Regions from separate parts of the Homo sapiens genome. Here region 1 is linked to region 2. Evidence: fine-mapped expression QTL. A gene starts in region 2. The other region holds a variant in brackets. All regions are shown on one strand. Distances are from middle to middle. Region 1 overlaps EXD3 (exonuclease 3'-5' domain containing 3). Region 2 holds the start of EXD3 (exonuclease 3'-5' domain containing 3).

Evidence for each region. PIP is the estimated chance that this variant, and not a neighbour inherited with it, causes the effect.
Region 1: its variant is fine-mapped to the expression of EXD3 in lung (TOPMed, PIP 0.96).

What each region holds. Positions count from the first base shown.
Region 1 is chr9:137,382,474-137,390,792 of GRCh38, reverse strand. It overlaps EXD3 (exonuclease 3'-5' domain containing 3), which reads left to right. Exons shown (of 22, transcript NM_017820.5): 3 at 7,416-7,480. Among named protein-coding and RNA genes, the nearest start is that of EXD3, 37 kb to the left of the region's middle. The variant A/G (reference allele first, on the strand shown) is at 3,257.
Region 2 is chr9:137,418,547-137,426,865 of GRCh38, reverse strand. It overlaps EXD3 (exonuclease 3'-5' domain containing 3), which reads left to right and starts at 3,704. Exons shown (of 22, transcript NM_017820.5): 1 at 3,704-3,752. It overlaps NOXA1 (NADPH oxidase activator 1), which reads right to left and starts at 3,473. Exons shown (of 14, transcript NM_001256067.2): 1 at 3,160-3,473; 2 at 536-618. The coding sequence starts at 3,336. It also overlaps the pseudogene LOC124902354. RefSeq lists silencers at 3,243-3,802, 3,823-3,962, 3,973-4,112.

The DNA of each region.
Region 1 (8,319 bases), 36 kb after region 2:
CCCAGCTGGCAGTGGGGGTGGTGCTTTCTCTGCCTCCAAGGCTGCGGAGCCAAACCTCGGGCTGTGACATGAGGGTGACATGAGGGAGACCGGAGGGAAGTCACAGCTGGCCTCATAAAACCGTGAAAACGCCCTTCCACACCTGCCAGCAGAGAGGGCTCATCTTCCTCACTGTGTGACCGGGCCACGCTGCCTAACCTGTTTTCTCATCTGAATGATGATTCTAACGCCAATACCGGGCCTCATTTCTGTGTGAATATTGAAGGAGTTAGTTTATGTGAAACCACCCAGAACATACTGTTATCTTTTTAGTTTTTATTTATTTGTGTAATTTTTATTTATTTACTTTTTTTTTTTTTTGGCAACAGAATCTTGCTCTGTCGCCCAGGCTGGAGTGCAGTGGCACAATCTCGGCTCACCACAACCTCCGCCTCCCGGGTTCACGCCATTCTCCTGCCTCAGCCTCCCGAGTAGCTGGGACTACAGGTGCCCGCCGCCACTCCCGGCTAATTTTTTGTATTTTTTTAGTAGAGATGGGGTTTCACCATGTTAGCCAGGATGGTCTCGATCTCCTGACCTCATGATCCGCCCACCTCAGCCTCCCAAAGTGCTGGGATTACAGGTGTGAGCCACCGCGCCCGGCCATTTTTTTTTTTTTTTTTTTTTTTTTTTTGACAGAGTCTCGCTCTGTCACCCAGGCCGGAGTGCAATGTCGCAACCTTGGCTCACTGCAACCTCCACCTCCCAGGTTCAAGTGATTCTCCTGCCTCAGCTTCCTGAGTAGCTGGGATTACAGGCACCCACCACCATGCTTGGGTAATTTTTGTATTTTTAGTAGAGACGGGGTTTCGCCATGTTGGCCAGGCTGGTCTCGAACTCCTGACCTCAGGTGATCTGCCCGCCTCGGCCTCCCAAAGTGCTGGGATTACAGGCATGAGCCACTGTGCCGGGTCTGTTACTTTTTAAAAATAGGCATTTCATCTTCCAATATTTCTGTTGTAGGTAGGATCTTTTCTTCAGCAGATTTTCTGACCTGCGGTTGCAGAATGAAATTTGGGGATCTCTCTGTCCCTCTCTGCATGCATCCACCTGGCTCCCAGCGTCCCAGCTCCTTGCTGGTCTCACTGTCCCTCTCTGTCCCTCTCGCTCCGAGCGTCCCAGCACCTCGACGTACTCACTGTCTCTGAGTGGCGTCCGCCTCATGCCCCCTGAGCTGGTACCGCCCTTTCCCTCTCTGCCTCCTTGTGGGGTCCACAGCATCGAACGGTGGGCTCTCCCCCTCATCCCGCTTTCCCAGCAGAGGCAGCTTGGGCTTAGGCTGGGTCAGGTTCTGTCTCCAAGGCCCTCGGCTTCATGGATGAGGCAAGTGAGTAGGACTGAGGGTGAGGGGACCCATGACCGATGAGAGACGGTGCTGTGCTGGGGTTGTGGGCCGCTGTGTTGATAGAGCAAGGGGCTCCGTGCCAGATGCTGGACCTCCGGGAGCCCCTTCACCTCACTCCCCAGACACGGGCGGTCCTCTGCGGCGAGCCGAGGTGGAGGGCACACGCTGTCCGCCGGGCTTGGGGTCTCGTTGCCGCCTCTGTCCTTATCACGTCCCCCGCCCTGCCTGCAGCTGAGCACAGGCAGATGTGGGTGGAATCTGAGACCAGAGACGGTTGGGCTGGAGGGGGTGGCCCCATCTCAGCTGCCCCCGGACGCCAGAAGGCCACCAGGAGACAGACTCGTGGCAGAGGGACGGAGGCCCCAGTGCGTGGTGGGTGGGCGTGGCCTCTCAGGACACGCCTGCGGGAGGTGCCATGGGGTCTCTGAGGGGAGCTGAGGCCGTGGGCTGGCCCTTTCTGCTGTCCGTGGGCGGTCAGAGGACTGACCCAGGCGGGGTGCTGTGCTGATAGCAGGTGCCTGGACCCGTGGACATGCAGGTCACCACAGCGCGTGGGGTCTGGTCTGGGCGGCCGGGCTCTTCTACACTCACTGCCGCGGGGTCTGATGCTGCTGGCAGGTGTGGGACGGCCTTGGAGACGGGCTGTGAGCTTTGTGACCCAGGCCCCAAGAGGAGAGCCAGCTGCCGGGGAGACCCACTCGGGGGCTTTGTGAAGACCACGTCACAGACTTCCTGCCTGGAGGCCGGGTGTCCCCTGCCAGCATCCGCTGCCTGGTGTCCTCTGCCTGGCGCCCGCTGCTGGGGTCGGCCTCAGTTCCTGGGGCTTCTGTGCCCCCAACCCTGTGGATAAAAAGCCCCCTGTGTTTCTCATCCCCGCTTTATGGTAGAGTGTCGGGAATAACAGAGCCTTCGGCGCCACCCACTCCACAGCCCACAGTTTCCCGCGTGCGTCTGTGTCTCAAGGTGAAGGCAGCCCCATTAGCCGGGTGTCGTTTGGAGGAAGTGGCGTCCCTGTGTTCTGCCCATCCTGCGTCCCTGCAACCATCCGTCCTCCCGTCGGCCGGCGCGGGGGTGTCAGCTGGGGAGCCGTCCTGGGGACAGATGGTGGAGCCGTCCTGGCCGCCTCTGCCTGGACACCCTCAGGCCAACCCCACAGAGTTCCTGAGCCCTCCCAGGCACGTTTTGGGGAGGGTGGCTGGGGGGGAAGCCAGTGTGGGCACCAGGCTCTGGTGCTGGGCAGGGACCATGATTCAGCCCCCCAGAGAGAAGCAGCCCAGCTCTTGGATGTGAATCCACATTCGGGGGACTGTGGGACTTTTATTCTTGAGCTTGAGTTTTTTCTAGGTGTCCTCCTAATACACAGCTGCCCCGCTCTGCCCCCACCCACATGGTTCCAAGGGGCAGGGTCCAGGGTCAGGGCCCAGCCTCCTGGCCAGGGCCATCTGTCTCAGCGTCCTAGACCTGCCTGTCTGCAGGTCCCAGGCATCGGTGCAGCACTGATGAACTTGGCGAATTCAGGGAACTTGGGCCTGGGTGTGGAGGTGGGGGCCAGAGGCCACCCACGGAGCTCCGGCCAAACATCCACGCTGGGGACCAAAGGCCCCCAGAAGCTACTGCACGAGGAGGCGACCTCAGGGAGGGCTGGCTGGGGCTTCTGGGGCCGGAGAGCGGGTCTGGGAGGTCCCTCGGTGTCAGCTCCAAGCCCCACCCGCCCTTCTCGGACCCCGTGCCCCTGCGTGGTATCCCTGAGTTGGGGTGCGTGGGGTGCTGTGTGCTGAGTGGGGTGTGTCCCCCAGGGCTCTCCCAGGCACCCTGTCCTCTCACTGCTGAGCCCTGGGGCTCACAGAGCTCGCTTGTCTTCTTCGTTCAGAC[A/G]GAAGCCGCCCCTGGACATCCTGTTTTTCTTCTGTTGTATGAACAGGAAGCCAGCAATTGTGTGGGATGAGTGTCAGCATGGCCGTGTCTGAGCCCGGCACGGCAGACACTTGTCCCGCCACACCTGCCATGGGTCCCTCCAGCTCTGGCCCGAGAGACTCAGGGCTCCCCAGGGCTCCCCAGTTGCGTGGGCTGTGAGCACCATGTGTGCACGGCTGGCCCTGGAATGGCTGGGGCGGGCACCGTGGAGTGTCCATCGTGCACCGGCCATGGCCTGGAAGGAGACCCAGGCGGTCACTGCCCTGGGGCTCAGCGTTGAGGCCACAGTGAAGCGACAGGGGCAGAAGGGCAGGGGCCGGGGGCCAGGCAGGGAGCGGGGGCCGAGGGCCAGGCAGGGAACAGAGGCGCTGAGGGAGGCAGACAAGGAGTAGGGGCCGGGGGCCAGGCAGGAAGCAAGGGCCGGGGGCCAAGCACGGAGCAGGGGTGCTGAGGGAGGCAGGCAGGGAGCAGGGGTGCTGAGGGGGCCAGGCAGGGAGCGGGGGTGCTGAGGGAGGCAGGCAGGGAGCAGGGGTGCTGAGGGAGGCAGGCAGGGAGCAGGGGTGCTGAGGGAGGCAGGCAGGGAGCAGGGGTGCTGAGGGGGCCAGGCAGGGAGCAGGGGTGCTGAGGGGGCCAGGCAGGGAGCAGGGGTGCTGAGGGAGGCAGGCAGGGAGCAGGTGTGCTGAGGGGGCCAGGCAGGGAGCAGGGGTGCTGAGGGAGGCAGGCAGGGAGCAGGGGTGCTGAGGGGGCTTCCGGGCAGGCTGCTGGGTGCTCGAGAAGCAGCCTCAGGCCCAAGGGGCAGGGTCCAGGTACACGGAGGTTGGAGGCTGGGAGGATGTGGTGGGCCCTGGCTTTGACTCTCAAGGCTGAGGGGCCACGGTGGAGTCCATAAAGTGGCCTGGCCTGCCCCATATTTCTGTAGGATGCTAGGGCTGTGCCGTGTTGCGCGGCTGGGTGTTGTCTGAGGGCACAGCGTCAAGGCAGGGAGTCCCCTGGGAATCTGGAGTGGCCCAGGTCGGTGGGAGGGGGCAGACCCTGCCCACCTGGAGGGCAGAACCAGCAGGACCTGAGCAGGGCAAAGACCAGCAACACTGACTGGGGAGTAGGAGGGCCGGCATCACCAACTTCCCACCTGGAAAGGTGGATCTCGATTTGGAGAACTTAAAAAGAATAATAAGGACACCCTGCTTATTGATGGATGGATTGATTGACAGGTTCTCACTCTGTCCCCCAGGCTGGAGGGCAGTGGCACAATCAGGGCTCACTGCAGCCTCAACCTCCCAGGCTCCAGCCATGCTCCCACCCCAGCCTCCCAAGTGGCTGGGACCTCAGGAGCGCCACCATGCCCAGCTAATTTTATTTATTTTGGTAGAGATGGGGTCTTGCTGTCTTGCCCAGGCTGGTCTCAAACTCCAGGGCTCAAGCGACCCACCCACCTCAGCCTCCCAAAGTGCTGGGATTACAAGTGTAAGCCACCTTGCCCAGCTTCACCCTGCTTTTAAAAATATGTGAAATATACATAACATGAAATTTACCATTTTAACCACTTTCCTGTGTACACTCAGTGGCATTAAGGGCACTCATGTGGCTGCACAGCTGCCACCACCGTCCACCTGCAGAACCTTCTCATCTCACGCATCTGAAACTCTGCTTTAAAAGAAAATCTGGGCTGGGCGCGGTGGCTCACGCCTGTCATCCCAGCACTTTGGGAGGCCGAGGTGGACGGACCAATTGAGCTCAGGAGTTCAAGACCAGCCTGGCCAACATGGTGAAAACCCGTCTCTACTAAAAATACAAAAATTAGCCAGGCGTAGCGGTGAGCGCCTGTACTCCCAGCTACTCCGGAGGCTGAGGCACGAGAATCACGAACCTGAGAGGTGGAGGTTGCAGTGAGCCGAGATCACAGCACTGCACTCCAGCCTGGGTGACAGTGAGACTCCGTCTCTAAATAAAATATTAACTTAAATAACAAAATAAAAGTCTCTTTTGTTTATTGTGAAGTGCAACCCATGTGTAGGAAGGAACGCAGAGCACATGATGCGGCTCGGCACATGATCGTGAACACACCACAGCACGCCCCGCCCAGCCCACCCTGGCCCCATCGCCAGCCATGCCCAGCATGCAGCACCCAGAATGCGGGGCCAGTCACACTGCCTGCCATGGCCACGTGGTGGGGTACGTCCTCCCCACCTGGGCATCGTCCCGGGGCTGATGCACTTGCTCCGTCCTCCTACAGTGGACATTTGAGTGTTCTCAGCCTCTGTATGCAGCACACTGTGCACGATGGTGGGACGGTTCTGAGCGCAGACGGGAACACTGGCCTGTGCCACCCAGGCCCAGGTGGCTGCAGAGACGCCATGGTGGAGCCTGGGCGCCCCACGGTGTTTTATGGTTTTTTGGTTTTTGTCTGAGACGGAGTCTCGCTCTGTTGCCCAGGCTGGAGTGCAGTGGCCCGATCTCGGCTCACTGCGACCTCCGCCTCCCGGGTTCATGCTGTTCTCCTGCCTCAGCCTCCCGAGTAGCTGGGACTACAGGCACCCGCCACCATGCCCAGCTAGCTTTTGTAGTTTTAGTAGAGATAGTGTCTCACCACGTTGGCCAGGCTGGTCTCGAACTCCTGACCTCAAATGATCCACCTGCCTCGGCCTCCCAAAGTGCTGAGATGACAGCCGGCTGGGTTTTGTTTTGCATGAGCTGCTTTTGTTACATTTCTCCCAGGGAATCTGACATTGCTGATGCTGTTGTAAGTGATTTTTGAAATGGCCATTTCTGTTTATTGCTGATTTTCTCATTTTGGCTTGTGCTGAGCATTGATGCCGAACCCATTGGTTAATTCTAACGGCGTAGTTTTGATCCTTCGTGGCTTTCTGTGTAATCAATCACATTGTCGGCCGGTCCTGATGTTTCTGTTTTCCTTCTGCATTGGATGCCACCTGCTTGGGACGGCTCCAGGCCGGGCTGTGGCATCCTTACGTGCTGCCCTGAGCACCACGTCTCACGCTCGCCCATGGCTTTTACCCAGTTCAGGGCGCTCCCTGCCCGTCCCAGGTGAGTTATTTCTTAAATTGTGAGCTGAACTGAATTTTAGAACACTTGCTCTGTGTCTACCGAAAGGGCCACGTGGTTCTCTCCTCCGTTCCGGTCCTGGGCTGAATCATAACCTTGGACTCTCCTGTTAAGTCAGCCTGGCTCTCTGGGGTGACCCCCGTCACACACGCTTCTCTGGCGTGTGTGGCAGAATCCAGCTGCTGAGGTCTGATCTGATCTCATGTGAGTCCTCAGCCTCCCTCGCAGCAACACGGGGCCTTCCCTGTTCCCGTCCTGCCCTGCAGGGGGGCCCAGCAGCTTCCACAGCCCCCCAGGTCCAGGGGGAGTTCACTGCGGAATCCACCCAGGCTCCTGTCCTCAGGCCTCCCCTGTGGAGTCCCTGCTGGCACCTGCCCCTCCCTGGCCTCCGACCCTGACCCTACCACATGACCAGGCCTGAGTGGGTCTCCACTCCCCTGCACCACCGGCCTCCAAGCCAAGCCACGCAGCCCCTGGGTTCTGTCTGGAAACCTCCCTCGGGTCTCGCTCTGGTGGCCCTGTCCGTGTGGGGCAGCGTCTTTGGTTGGCACTTTTGCTGCAGTGAGGTCGGGGGCCTCCCAGGCGGGGCTGGAGGGAGGGGGCGGCGCGGGAGGGCCGGGGACCGAAACCTAAAGAGGGCAGGGGCTTGGGGTCCTCGTGGTGCCAGGACTGCGGTGCAGGGTTTGGGTGAGAAGATGCTGATGAGGTTGCCGAGGGCGCCAGGCGGAGCAGGTAGAGGCTCAGGCCCACGAGGGCTGCTCTGCACCTGCAGCTGAAAGATGAGGCCCAGCTCCCAGGGCTGAGCGTGGTTGAAGTGCTGCTGGGCGGACTCAGCTGGATGGGCGGCCACGGGCCACAGGGAAGGAACAGGGTGGGTGCTGCCGCAGCTGGCAGGTGTGTTGTGTGTGTGCCAGACAGAGGTGGGGGAGGGTTCCCGGCCCCCCGGGTCCAGAGGAGCCCCAGGCATTGCGGGTCAGTGGGAGGGACTTCCCGGCGGGCTGTGCGATAGCCCCTGCACCTGCCTCTCCCTCCCACGGCTGTTATCTTATCTCCACAGGCCGGGACCCCCTCCTGCTCCTGCAGGCCCTGCAGACCCTGTGGTCCACGCGGGAGCGGAAGCAGGTGAGTGGACGTGGCAGCCACCACGTGCCAAGTCACAGCCAGCAGAACTGACTGTTGGGCAGAGACTGGCCTAACAGGAGGCCTCCCTGGTCAGGAAGCTGCACAGCCCCCCACGGCCACAGGGTCCTGCACAGCTGCTGCCCCAGACCGCCTCCAGGGTGGCCTGTGTGGGGCAGGGGGCGGTCCTCCTCAAGTCCCCAGGGTGGTAAAGGCACTGCCTGGCCCCAGCAGCCCCTCTGAGGTCACCTCTGGGAGGCGCAGGGGCCACTCACCTGCAGGGACACAGCTGTCGCCAGCACTGCCAGGCCTGAGGCCCCGTCCTGCCACCGCCAGAGCACCCAGGCCCGGGTGGCCACTGGGGCAGGTGTCCAGGACAGGGAGGCCTTAGGAAGGGGTGGGACTTGAGCAGGGCAGGAGGCTGGGCGGGAGAGGCCAGGGGAGAGGCTACAGAGGGAGGGCCGGCCCCCTGTGGGGGCAGACGCGGATTCCGGCTCCTTAGTGGCAATGGCCTGTGCACAGGAAGCTGCCAAGTCCTGAGTGCCGCGTCCTCTGGCCCGAGGTCGCTCCTGCAGGTCCGGGGGACGCCCTCCAACCCCAGCCCAGCTCCTCTGAGTGCCACATCCACTGGCCTGAGGTCACCCCTGCAGGCCCGGGGGATGCCCTCTGACCCCAGCCCTGGCGCTGCCTGCTCCTGTGTCTGCCTCTCTCCTGCACCCACCTCTGCCAGCTTTCGTTTGTCCATCAGCTCGGTGGCTTCTTGGGCCTCCAGCTTGTGAATCTCTGTCCTTGCTTTTGAGATTTCCCTCTGCCGTTCCATTTCCAGGCTCTCTTGTCGGACC
Region 2 (8,319 bases):
GAGATCGCACAATTGCACTCCAGCCTGGATGACAGAGCAAGGCTCCTTCTCAAAACAATTTTTAAAAAGTAAATAAATATCTTTTACAGAATTTTATTTTTTCTAGAATTATATTTTTTGGGATTTTAGATTTGAGGGGTTTTGATATTTCAGGATTGCGAGGCTCTCGGGACTGTGATCCACTTCCCCACAGAGCCTGCCCTCCTGGGATGGGGCCTGTGAGTGTCTAGCAGAGAGGCCGAGGCATGGCCTGGTCTGCAGTCCCGATGGTCTCCTTTCCCTCATTCCTCCTTTAGGAAGGGACATGGTGCAGAGAGCCCAGGTAAGCAGTGAGGACCCCACGACCTGTGTCCAAGGGTGGCGCTCAGCAGAGGCGAGGGCCACAGTCTCAGGTTTCCCTGGAGCCAGGAACCATGGAGGAGGGGGTGGGCAAGAGGAGGGAGTGGATGGAGAGGGAGGAGGAGGAGGTGCAGGAGTGGACTCTGCAGGGAGACAAAGGGCCGTCAGAGAAGGAACAAGGCACCCCTGTACTCACCTTGCCAGCTGGAAGTTGGCCACTCCTCGCTGGAAGAAGCCAACCGCCATGCAGGTGTCCTTGGTCACGGCTTGGTCAAATGCCTGGGGACAAAAATGCCCACGGGATGCCAAGGTCTGTAACCTGGTCACGCAGCATCACAGATACAGCGTGATGGGTGACAGGGCCACGGAATTCCGTCAGCCCCTGGGGACCCCCCACAGCCCCTCCTGCTCCTGTCCAGGAACCTTCGGAGCCCCTGCCTGGGCAGGGCTGTCGCCACTCAGGTTGCCACAGCCCACCCAACCCCAACCCGTCCAAGGCGCAGAGCCCACTGAGGTGCTGCTAAAACCAATGTGTTTACCATGAGCACAAGGACAGAGGCCAGAAAAAAGTGTTCCAGTATGTTAATAATAGTTACCTCTGGGGAGTGGGGTTATGCAAGATTTTTGTCTTTTAAAAATCCTTTTTTTTTTTTTTGAGACGGGGTCTCGCTCTGTCACCCAGGCTGGAGTGCAGTGGCTCGATCTTGGCTCACTGCTGCCTCCGCCTCTGGGTTCAAGACATTCTCAAACTCCTGACCTCAGGCAACCTTGGCTGTCACATACTGGAGACGAGATAACGCAGTCCAGATCCCAGAGTCAGCAGCTAAAGAACTGCATTACAGGCCGGGCATGTTAGCTCACGCCTGTAATCCTAGCATGTTGGGAAGCTGAGGTGGGCGGATCACCTGAGGTCAGGAGTTTGAGACCAGCCTGGCCAACATGGTGAAACCCCATCTCTACTAAAAATACAAAAATTAGCTGGGCATGGCGGCACGCGCCTGTAGTCCCAGCTACTCGGGAGGTTGAGGCAGGAGAATCGCTTGAACCCGGGAGGTAGAGGTTGCAGTGAGCCAAGATCGCACCACTGCACTCCAGCCTGCAAGACAGAGCGAGATTCCGTCTCAAAAAATAAATAAAATAAAAATCCTTTTTTGATAGTTCATGCAAAATGACACCCTAGAAATCTATTAGAATCAGAAAGAACAACACACGTCTTCATGTGTTTATCTGTGTGTAAAGCACAGCTCTTCCTTAAACCAGACTCAGGAGGACACAGAAGGTTCTGAACAGGGACCGTGGCCATCAGTTAAATGTGTGTGACAGGAAGGGTGCTACGGTCTCTTTCACAAATCTGGCTGAGTGGGGGCTTGTCGTTGAACCAAGTTCACACAGGTGTGAAGTGTGGCGGCTGAGCACAGGCACGCAGCCCTGATGTGGGGTGGCGGCTCAGGGCCAGCAGAACCCACCTGTCTGCCCCAAACGTCACGCAAGGCTCCTAACAAGAGACAGCAGTTCCAGCGACACCCTCTGCACCCTGGGCTGCCCCTCACGTGATCGGCTTTATGAATCATAGCTGTTCCATCTGCTTTCCTAAGTTCCCATATTCCTAACATGCATATGCTGTGGGTTAGTCGTATGACTTTCACTGCGTCCCCTCTCTGTAGTGAAACCAGGCACAAGAGCACAAGTGACTGGGTTAGCCCCGGACATAGGATTTGTTGCTGAACCACCTGGTGTCTAAAGATTACATTCCCTTTCTTGGATAACATTTTAAAATGAAATCATTGTGGGCCGGACAAGGTGGCTCACATGTGTAATCCCACCACTATGGGTGGCCGAGGAGGGTGGATCACCTGAGGTCAGGAGTTCAAGACCAGCCTGACCAACATGGTGAAACCCGTTTCTACTAAAAATACTAAATTAGCCAGGCGTGGTAGTGGGCGCCTGTACTCCCAGCAACTAGGGAGGCTGAGGCAGGAGAATTGCTTGAACCCGGGAGGCAGAGGTTGCAGTGAGCCAAGATTGGGCCACGGCACTCCATTCAGCCTGGGTGACAGAACGAGACTCCATCTTTGAAACAAACAAAAAAATGAAATCATTATGGAGGTGATTGTAAATTTGTACGCAGCTTTAAGACACAAGAGAGGGGGGTCTCATGCGCTTTGCCCAGTCTCCTCCAAGGGGGATATTTTGCCAGTCAGGGGCGTGGAGACCCTCCCACAGCGCGCAGTTCCCTCTCCTTTAAATCACTGCTGTCACCGAGCCTTCAGTAACCGTGGGCACCTGCCTGCTTCTGCGGGGTGCTTGGGACTGAGCGGGGGTGGGCAGCGCTGGCGTTTGGGATGCGCAGGAACAGGCGGCCCCGGAACGCGAGGGGGCACGAGAAGGGCACCGGGCTCCGTGCAGGGCCTCGGCCGCTGCACCCTGGCACCCTGGACTCCTGGCTGTTTCGGGGAGTGGGCTGGGGGAGGGCTGAGGGCTCTGAGGAGGAGACTGACCCGGTCTCCCGGCCATGACCACAGGCGCAACGCTTTCCCCTTAGGGCAGGGCGGTCCCTCGGGCCTGACCCAGCCCAGCAGCTTCCCCCTTCCCGGTGTGAGTCACCCTCGGGCCCCGGCCTCTCCCGGTGACCGCCGCGCCCCCCAGCGCGGCCTCGCTTAGCTCAGGTGCGGCCCCCCTGCTCGGCTCCCACCTGCCGGGGCGTTCGCTGGGTCGGGGGCGGCAGGGCGACCCCGTGACGGTCGGGGAGGGGCGCTGGGCCCTCCCCAGGGGCTCGAGGCGGAGGCGTCGCCCGCACCGGCCTCCCCACGCCCCGCTCACCCGCAGCGCGGCCTCGGGGTCCCCGGCCAGCAGGTGCACGCAGCCCGCGTTGAAGCACAGCCTGGCGGGCGGCGCCGGGACGCCCGAGAAGAGGTGCAAGGCGCGGGCCCAGTCCCCACGATCCACAGCCTGCGCGCCCAGGTGCCAGGCGCGCACCAGGTCCCCCAGAGAGGCCATGGCGGCCGGTGGCGGCGCTCGAGGAGGGGCCAGGATCCCGCGGAGGGGCCGGGGCCGGGGCCAGGCGGCGGCGCGGGGCTGCGGGGTCTCCGAGGCGGGCAGAGGTGCGGGCGCCAAGCGCCAGGTGCAACCCCGCTGCCCCGCGGCGCCCCCTGGCGGCAGGCGCCCGCCCCTCCCCGGTAAGGCCACGCCCCCGCCAGAAACGGCTACGCCCACTCCAGACCCTCAGGCCTCGCCCACCTCCCATTCGGCCCCCGCCCCGGCCGGACTTCCGCCGGGAGCTTTGTGCGCCCGGCTTCCTCGCCCCGCCCGCGCTGGCCTTGGTGCGCCGGATAAAGCCCTCCGGGCCAGCGGCTGCGGTCGGGCCAAGGTTCCGCGCCGGGCGTGGACGGTGTGGGGCGGTCCCGGCCCCGCAGGTGAGCGACCCCGGGCCGCGCGGGCCAGGTGGGCGGTCTGGGCGCCGGGGGCAGAGCGGGGCCGGGCCGGGTGCGCGTCCTGAGGTGAGGGCCGTAGCTGGGAGTGAGCCGGGGGCGGGCCGCCGGCTCTCCCGGGGTGGGGAAACTGAGGCCCCGATGGGGCGGGGAAGGTGCGTTCTCCCGCAGGGCCCCGCTCCGGAGGCCGCCGAGCAGCCGGACGCCGCGGGGAGCTGAGCCGACCCCGGCGACCCCGCCGCCCTGTCCCGCAGGGCCTGCCCTCCTCCGCGCCTTCCGAGCACGGACATCACAGGACCCGGAGGCCCTTCGCTCCCTCGCCGAGGAGGAGGCGCTCCCGGTGGGACGCGCGCGCGCCCGCCCTGCCCTCCCCGGGAGAAGGGACGGGCGCCTCCCTGCAGGGGCCCTGGCTTCCTGTCCACCGGCGCTGAGTCCTGTATTAGTTGTCAACCTAAAATAATTAAAAGGGTCAGAATGTGGTGCCCGGTGGGTTTATTCAGGCACAGAGGTCGAGGGCGGCCTGGGTCACCAGGTGCAACGGAGAACAAAACAGAGGCTCAGGTTTTTAAAGAAAACAGAGCCCATCGGAGAGCAGGTGGTTTCGAACGTTGCCCAGGAGCTCACTGGCTTGTAGAAATGGCATTGGTTCGCGATTGACCACGGCTTGGTGTCATCAGTGGATAGTTACTTGGCTCGAGGGGTAGTGAGGGGCTGCGGTTTCATTTGAAATGCTTTCTGGCACTTAACATCAAGCTTTCTGGGCCCACAGTTTAAAAGGGCTTTACATTCCTCAGATAAATGATTTTTTTCTTTCTCATTTGCCCCCCTTTTGATCAAAATCTTTCTTCTTGAAAGCATTGATTATCAAAATCTGAGGGTCAGAGTGTCCCCTCTTGCTGGGAAGGCTCATTCCCACATAGTCCTGTCCCATGCCAAGCAGGGAAGGAGGAGACATTTCAGGGAGTTTTTTTTTTTTTTTTTTTTTTAAGAACACCACAAACTGAATTGGAATGGCATTACAGGGTGGCAAACATGAGGTCTCAGTGAAGTCATTAATTTATACAACTGCTGTCACCTGTTGAATCATCTCTAGTTTTTAGAAACACCATTAATTTTAATTTTCTCAGAAGTAACACATAGGACTATAACCAATTTGTATGCCAGGATGAAAAAAACAAACCTGTTCCATTAGGGAGACAACTAAAAACATGAAGAAACTAAAATCCATGTTCTTCTTTCTTTTTATTTATTTGTTTACTTAGAAATGGGGTCTTGCTCTGTCACCCATGCTGGAGTGCAGAGGCACGATTCCCACTCATCGCAGCCTTGAACTCTTGGGCTTAAATGATCCTCTTGTCTTAGCCTCCTGAGTACCTGGGAATACAGGTGTTTGCCACCAGGACCGGCTAATTTTAAATTTTTTTGGTAGAGACTAGGTCTTGACACCTTGCCCAGGCTAGTCTCGAACTCCTGAGCCCAAGTGATCCTCTCATCTGGGCCTCCCAAAGTGCTGGGGTTATAGGTGTGAACCTCTGCCCAGCCAGGTTCTTCTTTGAGACTTGTAGCCAGAAGATTGTTCAGGATTTAGTCCAGATTGTAGGAAAATAAAAAATACAATGATCAGGGCTAGAATCCAGTAACAGGTATGCTGTAGTTTTTCTCTGAAACATAATTTTTCTCTACTTCCCCATTTCTACCAAAGATAAATCTTGGTAAGACCAATTTACTTGTAAAATAAATTTTAGGATTATATTTGGCCTGATTATTTGCCTAAAGTACAACAGTGGTGATTGGCCATATAGGCTCCTTTCTAAACTGGCTGGAACTTTGCCATAAGGAATTTCAGACTTTTTTTCCCCACATCAGACAGGTAATGTGCTGGCGTCATAACAGCGTTTGAAGGAGACAGACCCTACACATGAGGCAATCATCATGCTTATGAACTACAAGAGGGTCAGAATAGACCTTTAAAAGCCACTTGAGGGCTGGGCATGGTGGCTCATGCCTGTAATCCCAGCACTTTGGGAGGCCAAGGTGGGAGGATTCATTGAGCCCAGGAGTTTGAGACCAACCTGGGCAACATAGCGAGGTCCCTGTCTCCACAAAAAATTTAAAAATTACCTGGGCATAGTGGTGCTCACCTGTAGTCCCAGCTACTCAGGAGGCTGAAATGGGAGGATCGCTTGAGTCCAGGAGATTGAGGCTGCAGTGAGCTATGATCGCACCACTGCACTCCAGCCTGGGTGACAGAGCGAGACCCTGTCTCTAAACAAAACAAACACTTCCCATGTCTAGGAAGCCAAGCCAGTGGCTCCCCATCACAGTGTATGTATAATACCTGTATGAATTTGGGGGGGGGGGTGAATGTCTGTCCTCCAGGTCCCAAACTATCTTGAAGTTCCTGGATCTGTCGGAAAGTGACATTCTTTCCTTACCTCAAGGCCAAGAACCTTTTAAGGGAACTATGTAAACAGGGCACCAGTCCAGTCATCCCAAGGGGCTTTTTATTGGCTCTATAAAGCGAACCTCGATTCCTCAAAGCAGTCTCGTCATATCCAAAAATACGTCATCCCAGTCCAAGCCTTGGTAGAATAACCAGGGTCTCCAATTGTGTCCTGTTACAAGGACAACAGATTCTTACTGAACTCATGCAAAGAACTACATTGCCATAAAATAAGAATACTCATGAATCGCTTCCAGATTTTTGAGAAATCAGGTAGAGAAAAAGACAAATATTTCAGTTTTGCTCACAAAAGTATATGTCACTCAATTGCTATAGCTATAAATAGCTCAAAAAGAAAAAGGTTTTCTGACTCTGGAAAACAAAATATAAAAAGAGTCAGCAAGGTTTCGATAACAACAAAAAATCATAAAAAGCATTTCAGGCCTCTATCAGTTCAGTTCTATGTAATTTGCTGGGGTTTTTTTTGTTTTTTTTTTAGGCGGAGTCTCCCTCTGTCGCCCAGGCTGGAGTGCAGTGGTACAATCTCGGCTCACTGCCAGCTCCGCCTCCCGGGTTCACGCCATTCACCAGCCTCAGCCTCCCGAGTAGCTGGGACTACAGGCACCTGCCACCATGCCCGGCTAATTTTTTTGTATTTTTAGTAGAGATGGGGTTTCACCGTATTAGCCAGGATGGTCTCGATCTCCTGACCTCGTGATCCGCCCGCCTTGGCCTCCCAAAGTGCTGGGATTACAGGCATGAGCCACCGCGCCCGGCCGCTTTTTTCTGTATGATGTTGGGTTAACAATCCTCATGAATGCATCAGCTTTTAAATAAGAGTCCTGGAAGTTTTTATCTGGTCTACTGGTGTGATCTCCCAGGTTATCGGAAGTCTGTATACTTGTCAATGTCCTTTCCATGAATTTCCTTGAAGAAAATGCAAATTTTGGACTGTACCTTATTTTATTTTATTTATTTATTTATTTTGAGATGGAGTCTCGCTCTGTTGCCCAGGCTGGAGTGTAGTGGTGCGATCTTGGCTCACTGCAACCTCCGCCTCCCAGGTTCAAGCGATTCTCCTGTCTCAGCCTCCCAAGTAACTGGGATTACAGGCATGAGCCACCATGCCCAGCTAATTTTGTATTTTTAGTAGAAACGGGGTTTTACCACATTGGCCTGGCTGGTTTCGAACTCCTGACCTCAAGTGATCCACCCGCCTCAGCCTCCCGAAGTGTTGGGATTACAGGCATGAGCCACCGTGCCCGGCCTTAAACTGCATTTTGAGAAGAATCAAAGTAAAACAGTAATTTTCTGCAGATGACAAAAGACTTAGAGTAGCCATGGGTGAAGACGCGATTGGCAGGGAATTTGGTTACTTCTGAGGTTAAAACAGTTTAACATATAATCGTAATCACGACTGATAACATATACCAAGACATGTCAGAATTTTTAGGAATCTCATACAATTTTGGAACATATGTTAATAATACATTTATACCAATATAACTCCAACAGCATTCCACATTTGACAATGCTTCCTGTATGATTTTAACATACCACATAAGCCTCGTACATCTCCCTTGGACTTCTCGGGGTTCCTATTTGTTATATCCAAGTTAGTTCAGGTGAAAAAAACCCTTAATGTTAGGACTTGAAATTTGGTTTTGGGAAGTCAAATATCAGAGGCTTAAAACAATCTCAAAATAGGACCACAGGTCACTGTAAAATAAGCCATTCATTTAATCAAATTGGTAATTCAGAGATTTCCCAAACCAAAAACCTTTACTATGACAGAGAGGAGACTTAGTTTCCCAAGCAATCAATAGACCTACTAAAGACAGCGTGAGGCAAACAGAATGTCTCTCCCTCTTTCCCCTTTTTTTTTTTCTGTTTACTCAGAAGATAAAAATATTTTACAATCTCTTATTACTACACGAAATGTTGTTCAAAAGAAAAACAAACTCTGCTTTTCTTATACATCTCACGTACAGAATTGTTTCTCTTATATTTAGTAGTTTCAGTTACATATATTAATTACAGTGTTAACTTCGTGACCCTAATTTTCCGTTAAAAACTCAGCGAGTAATTTTGAACTGTATGTGTAGATGG